2 linked regions of the Homo sapiens genome follow. The protein of the gene in region 1 interacts with the protein of each later gene in a pairwise test. Each region holds a gene or a part of one and is shown on either strand. Other genes may lie near its edges.

What was found.
Region 2: the proteins of PFDN4 (region 1) and VBP1 interact in binary tests that used the Homo sapiens proteins (3 or more experiments, as listed by UniProt).

The regions. Positions count from the first base shown.
Region 1 is NC_000020.11:54,211,082-54,214,908, forward strand, and holds part of PFDN4 (prefoldin subunit 4), read left to right. Parts: intron 1-3,269; coding exon 3,270-3,377; intron 3,378-3,827. UniProt on the Homo sapiens protein: Binds specifically to cytosolic chaperonin (c-CPN) and transfers target proteins to it. Binds to nascent polypeptide chain and promotes folding in an environment in which there are many competing pathways for nonnative proteins.
Region 2 is NC_000023.11:155,233,143-155,236,910, reverse strand, and holds part of VBP1 (prefoldin subunit 3), read right to left. Parts: intron 683-3,768; coding exon 544-682; intron 1-543. UniProt on the Homo sapiens protein: Binds specifically to cytosolic chaperonin (c-CPN) and transfers target proteins to it. Binds to nascent polypeptide chain and promotes folding in an environment in which there are many competing pathways for nonnative proteins.

The sequences.
Region 1 (3,827 bases):
CAAAAACAAAAAAACAAACAAAGAAGGTTGAATACAAATACAAAGCAAAAGTTTACATCATACAGACTTGGTAGATATGTTTTTAAAAGTAAAAATAAAAGACTGAAATTGGCCAGAATTTATTTCTAGGGACCCAGCTGTCAGTGCAGACTCCGTGTAATACCTAGACTTGGTGTGAGGCATGACTGAGTATGGTTCAGTTTCCTCCTCTAATCCCGTAAGATATTAGTTCTCAAGAAAAGAGCCCAGGGAATTTTAATTTTTACTTTGGATCCCGAGCAGGCATATTTCTCTTTGGCCTAGCAGAATTTCTTTCTAGATCTGGATCTGTTCTTTGTAATGATTTTTGATAAACAATATTCAGGATGTAAAATGCTTAGCTATCATTTGACTGACTCCATCATCAGGCTTTCTCCTACATGTTCATTTTATCAACCCTATAAGGTAGGAACTAGCCTCTCCATTTTACAGATGAGAAACCTGAGGTGGTTCCAAAGAATTGGGTAATTTGCCCAAGGTTCCTGTTTGCTTGGATTGGATTGCAGCCTGACTCTTCCCACCACTCTGTGTGCTGCCTCAGATACTATAGGATATGAGTTCTTCCTAGAGTTCTTCTGACTTTGAGAGTAGCTACAGCTGGTTTCCCTGAAGGCAGGAGTTCCTAACCTTTTGGGGTTGTGGATCCCTTTGAGAATCTGGTGAAAGCTATGAAGACCTTCCAGAAGGATGCACATACTATACATGCCATTTTGCATACAGTCTCTGGGTATATCGACCTGTCAATGTCCATTGACCACCCCCACCCCCCAGTTAAGAATTACCCACTTCTGGCTGGGCGTGGTGGCTCAAGCCTGTAATCCCAGCACTTTGGGAGGCCGAGGCTGGTGGATCACCTGAGGTTAGGAGTTCAAGACCAGCCTGGCCAACATGGTGAAACCCCTTCTCTACTAAAAATACGAAAATTAGCCGGACATGGTGGCATGTGCATGTAATCTCAGCTACTTGGGAGGCTGAGGCAGGAGAATGGCTTGAACCCGGGAAGTGGAGGTTGCAGTGAGCCAAGATCATGCTACTGCACTTCAGCCTGGGCGACAGAGTGAGACTCTGTCTCACCAAAAAAAAAAAAAAATTACCCACTTCTTGCCAAAATGCAGCTTCAAGAAATGTAGGAATGTTCTAGGACAGTGAGACTAAAACAGAAGCCTCTGTTAGCCATCAAAGGCACTGACATCTTACTGTCTGCTGTAAATGGCACTCCACTGGGCGGCATGCAGTATATTTGACTCACACATCAACTTTAGCCCTTAACCCCAGTGGGAAAACCACTGTAAAGATCTGGATACCAGGGGCCACATGTGTGCTGATGCCTGTGGTTTGGTGGGGCTACAACAGGAAATTCCTGCTTTGGAAAGACAGAAAGCAGATAGCCAAATTCTCTCTACCACATTTTGGAAACTATGTGTTTGAGTCTGATCAAGCATGATTTAGATTCAAATTCAGAAACCATGTATTAGCCTTAGTTATGTGCCAGGCAGTCCTGCACTGGATCCGTTCATGTGAATGGCTCTGTTGAGCCCTCACCAAGACAAATACATCTATAAATGCCTGTTGGGGGTTCAATATTTAAACAAAATGGCATATACTCTTCAGGCAAACAGGAACTCTTCAGAATTCTCTGCTGTCTATTTGCGTAGGGAATTGACAGTTCTCACTTAGGCAAAATGACTTGTGTGCCAAGATATAGACTTTGGTTTCTTGAGCGTAGCTCAGTGTTCCCCAACTTCCATATTCATCAAAATTATGCATACGGTTGAACACTCAAAGCTAGACATAGTGTGATGTAAAGGATTTTTTCAGGCTATCTTCTGGGTTGTTGAGGTGGGGCATAATGCATGTGAAATTGTTTCTTGGAATGAGAGCCTAACAAAGGGGAGGACTGTGTTATATTCCGACCACTGAGCTCTGTATTGCTTGACACTGCCTTTCAACCTCTGAGAAATAAAAGTTCACATACCTTAAGTCGATGGTCATGAGAGACCAGGTCAGGGATGGAGTGTGAATGTTGTGAGCTCATTACTGTTACTGCAAAAGAGCCAAAAGTAGTGTTTCAGTATGAACTATTTTTATACACACACAAATATCTTTTCTTCTTTAAACTAGAATCAGGTGCTCTGGTTTTCATTTTATAAATGGAAGGGAAACCCTAAGGAGAGTCTGGTTTTATGTTTTAGCTTTATTTTTTAAAAATATATGGTACCTCCTTGAGAATCTGATGAAAGCAGACATCCTGCTGCCTCTTCCAGATGTGCCTAAGCCTGTGTACACACTCACACACACACGTGCACACTCACAGAGACGCACGTTCACATTCAGTTACCGAGAACTCATGGACCTGTCTGACCTCTGAAGCCAGTCTGCCTGGGTTGAAATCAAGTTCCACCACCTACTGGCTCTGTGGCTTTGGCCATATTATATAAAGTGTACCTCAGTTTCTCAATCTGTAAAATAGTGCTGGTGATCCTCCCTAATAAGATGGATTGCAGGATTAGCAGAGATAATAAAGTACTTAGGAAGTTTTGGCACATAGTAAATTCAATCAGTGTTAGCTATTTTTTTATTATTTCATTGGTACTTTATGTTATCCAAGTACTCTTTATTTGCAAATTTGTAAATTTAATCACATTAAATATTAATTTTTAAATACTAAACATTCAATTTTCATCATTTTTTAGTAAAGTAGACCTTATTAAGACATTTAAACAGGTCCTACATTATAAACATAATTTTTGCTGTGAATGGAATAGAGCCACTGAAATGTACAGTGACCCTTTAGCCAGTAAGCTCATGCAAGTTTTAGCTCTAAGAAAAAAAAAACACTACTCTGAGACATTTACCAATATATTTGACCATGTAACTTTTTGTTTCCTGGGTCATCTTAATGAAAGAATGCTCCAACTTGAGAAATTCTGCTCTGTGCCAAAAGTTGGCTTTTTTTCTTTCCTTTTAAAAGGACTTATTAATTGTTCTTTATGTTTGCAATATGTTTATAGCTTAGGAATTATTTTATGGAGTATCAGAAAAGGTTATAGATTTACAAACAAACCTTAAGCTTGTGGAGCAAAAAATAAGGCATTTGTTATGTTCTGTACTTCTTGTGATTCTTGACTATATGAGTGCAAATGGCTTATTGAGTTATTGTTGAGAAATATAAAAAGCTAACTGATAACTTCTCCGTTAAAATTTTACAAAAACTTAAACACTTCTTTCAGGCTGCAGAAGATGTCAATGTTACTTTCGAAGATCAACAAAAGATAAACAAATTTGCACGGAATACAAGTAGAATCACAGAGCTGAAGGAAGAAATAGAAGTAAAAAAGGTATTGAAAATAATTATTAGAAGAATAAAATTTTTTTATACTATAGCTACTAAAACTGAACTCAGTTAACAAGTGAATATATATTTCTCTGGGCTGTTTGTTGCAGATGAATGACGCGATCCACTCTAGTTAAGCAGAAAGTCATTTTTTTTTTAAGGGATATGCGATAACTTACAGAGTTGTTGAGGAGCTTGAGTCTAGACCGAGGTTCCAGGAACAAGTCTCGGAGAACTTGGCTGGCGGTGGAACAGCTGTTGCCTCCACTGATCCCAGAGTCAGCTGTCTTCCCAATGAGGAAGCCACCCTTGCAGACTTAGGAACACCAAGCTGCTGCTGCCAGTGCCACCTACCCCAGTAAATCTGGGGCCTGTGTCCAGCCGTCCCCCTTGAGTTGAAATCCAGCTCAAATGCATTTGATTGGTGGAATTGAAGTTATTATCACTTATGCAT
Region 2 (3,768 bases), on another chromosome or scaffold:
GATTTTCATGCCCCATATGTCTTAGCACAGTTGCAGGAACATAGGAGACCCTTAAATGCTTGTGAAATTAAACTATTTAACCAGTTATAAAGTTGTCTTGGGAAAATATTTGGAAGAAAAATACTTACTCACCTATGTGAATTTGCTGTTTCCACATCACATTTCAAAATCACTAATCTATCTACAAACTTATTTAAGTACTAGTTCCGAATATCTTATTTATTATCTTATAAAATCTATAACCTTTATATTAGCCTAATAAGGAAATTCTTCCCACTAAAGCAATGTAAGAAAGAATGTGGGAGGTTTTTTGTATTCTAATTTTTTTTTAGTTCTAGGGTACATGTGCAGGATGTGCAGGTTTGTTACAAAGGTAAACGTGTGCCATGGTGGTTTGCTGCACCTATCAACCCATCACCTAGGTATTAAGCCCAGCATGCATCAGCTATTTTTCCTAATGCTCTCCCTCTGCCCATGAAAGAATGTTTTTTTAAAAAAATCTTTCTCCTTTTTTCCCTTGCTTTTTGTTTTAAGAAAGGATACTGACTTCTGTGGTAGTAAATTGATCTCGAAGAAAGTCAAGGTCTTCCTCCAGGGAATCAAGATTCTTTGTGGCAGTCGATAAATTCTTTTCCAACAATGCCTGAGCTTCATCAATATCATATTCAAGCATTACATTAGCCTGAAGAGAGAAAGTCATGACAATTACTCAATATTTACACAGAGCTTTATAGGTTAGAGTAAAGTGTGGGCAAACTACAGCCCTCAGGTCAAATCCAGCTTGCTGCCTTTTGTTGTAAGTTAAGTTTCACTGGAGCCCAGCTATTCTCTACTCAGGCTTTCATACCACAATGGCAAAACTGAGTGGTTGAGACAGAGACCATGTGATCTACAAAACCAAAAATATTTACCATTTGACCTTTTACAGAAAGTTTGCTGACCCCTTGGTTAAAGAATATATTTACATACATTGTATCATTTAATCCTCAACCCTGCTGAGGCCAAAGTTGTCTTCTTCACAGTTAAAGAAATGAAGGCTCAGGTTTCCTTAGCTGGCATAGCTAGTGGGTAAATGGGAGAATCAGGATAAGAAACCAGTATGTTTAGATACAAAATCCTATCTTTCTACTACCTCCATCGTGAAACTAAATAGTGTTGTTTGTATCAATTTAAATAAATTCTGAGCTTGAGATATGATATTAATTTAAAATTTTTCAAAGACATTTATTATCATCTATATTTGACCAGGTAAAAAAGACAGCTAGCTTTTACCTGTCCCTTCCTACTACTTCTGACAGATGTTAGGGATTAAGACAAGGTAATGTGTCTGTCATTCTGAAGATCTAGTGTTACTGCCAACATTCAGGGATGCATGTACCCTGGAATTGGGAAGCCACACCTTTTACAGCTTTGAACTCTCCCTATCACCTGACTTACCACTGGCATTTCCTAAACCACTTTCCTCATCTCACAAATGCAATTTTAAAATTACTCAAAGGATTGTTGTAAGGATTAAACAAGACAACATGAAAGTATTTGGCACAAAGTAAATGCCAAATAAATACTTATTGACCAAATAATCCAATCCATAATTAGAAAACTGTATTAAAATTCAGATAGGACAAAAATATTCAACATAAGCAAAGACTGAACATAAATATAACAAGAATCCACAAAGAAAAAAAAACCAAAGCAGGGGACCAAAAAAATTTCTAAATCCTTCATTTCAACAAAATGTTCCTGAAATGTGACACATGCACATACTACACACACACACACACACACACACACACATACACACACACACACTGGGTGAAATGACACGCAAAATGAAATGAAAGGGTACTTTGTATACCTGGGGGAAACTGACCCAAAAGTCCTTTGAGCATCCAGGCAAAAAGAACACATCACTCATAGAAGAAAGAAATCAGTTTGCCCTCACACTTTTTGACAGTGATGCTTTACAACAAAAGAAAATGGGGCACTGTATAAGATGCTCAAGGAAATAAAATGTGAGTTTAAGATATTATATCCAGCAAAACTGAATTTCAAGTACAAAGGCCACAGACAAGTTGTCAGCAACATGAGATAACTCAGGGAATATCATTCCCATAAATCTTAAGGCAATCTACTTATCAGACGAATGAGTAACATACAATCAAAATGACTGGATGATGACTGGGGGGACATCAACATAAAGACTATGATGTGCATTCAATATTTACACGAAGAACTAGGATAAATGAAAGATGAGAGAGAGAAAGAGAGAGAGCAAACAGTATATAATGGCTCTGTGCTCCAACAATGTGGGAACAACCTTATAAAGAATGTGTAAGGACAGGAAGAACATATGCAAAAATGTCAGTGGTAACAGTGTTGGGTGGTGTTATTCTAAGAATGCTTTGCGTGTGAATAGTAATGTTGTCTAGCTTAATTCTATCACCCTTGGTATTTCTGAAAACCAGGATTCTTGATATAGAAGAAACAGGGGGGCCAGGCGCGGTGGCTCACACCTGTAATCCCAGCACTTGGCAGGCTGAGATGAGTGGATCACTTGAGGTCAGGAGTTCAAGGCCAGCCTAGCCAACATGGCGAAACCCCGTCTCTACTAAAAATACAAAAATTAGCTGGGCGTGGTGGCACGTGCCTGTAATCCCAGCTACTCAGGAGGCTGAAGGAGGAGAATCACTTGAACCCAGGAGGCGGAAGTTGCAGTGACCCAAGATCACGTCACTGCGCTCCAGCCCGGGCGACAGAACAAGACTCTGTCTCAAAAAAAAAAAAAAAAAAAAAAAAAAAAACAGAGGAACAACTAAAGTGAAAACTCTGTTGTCCTGAATTTGAATTGGAGGTAACAGTATGAAACCATGAGGTACACACATATTAACCTGAACCTTTGCACACAAGTTTATGCAGGTTAGCTATATCCTACTGGTTCTATTTCTCCGGTTGAACCCTGACAACAGATTCGTTCACTTACACTTTGCTTTATGCAGTTTTCTGATTTTTTTGTTTATATTTAATATTATATACATATAGAAAAGTATTCATATCATAAATATATAGCTTGATGTATTTTCACAAACTTAACACACTCATGGAACCAGCATCCAGATCAAGGACAGGTTATCACCAACACCCCAAAGCTTCCTTGTGAACATTTTCAGTTACCACCAGCACCCCCACCGCAAAGGTAACCATTAACCTGACTTACAGCATAGTTTTGCCTGTATTACAACTTTACATAAACAGAATGACACAGTATATGTGCTCTTTTGTGACTGACTTCTATAGTAGGCAAGAATTATGGCTCCCATAACAGCTGTCTCATTCTAATCTCTGGAATCTGTGACTCTGATGAGATATTTACATCATTTGTCAGAGCTGACCTTAATATACAGACTGCCTAGGTAGGCCTAATCTAGTTATATGAGCCCTTAAGAGCAGAGAACTTTTTCTGGCTGGCAGCAGAATGAGAAGTTTGAAAGATCTAAAGTGTAAGAAAGACTAGTCATATCACTGCTTTGAAAACAGAAAGGACCATGAGCCAAGGATTGCAGGTGGCCTCTAGAAGCTGAGACTGACTCCTGGACGACAGGCAGCAAGGAAACAGGGACCTCAACCACAGAGAACCGGATTTTGCCAATAACGTGAATAAGGCTGAAATCTAATTCTCCCCCAGAGATGCTAGTAAGGAATACAGCCCTGTTGACAATTTAATTCTGGCTTTGTGGGACCCTGCACAGAGGACCCAGCCAAGCCCATCTG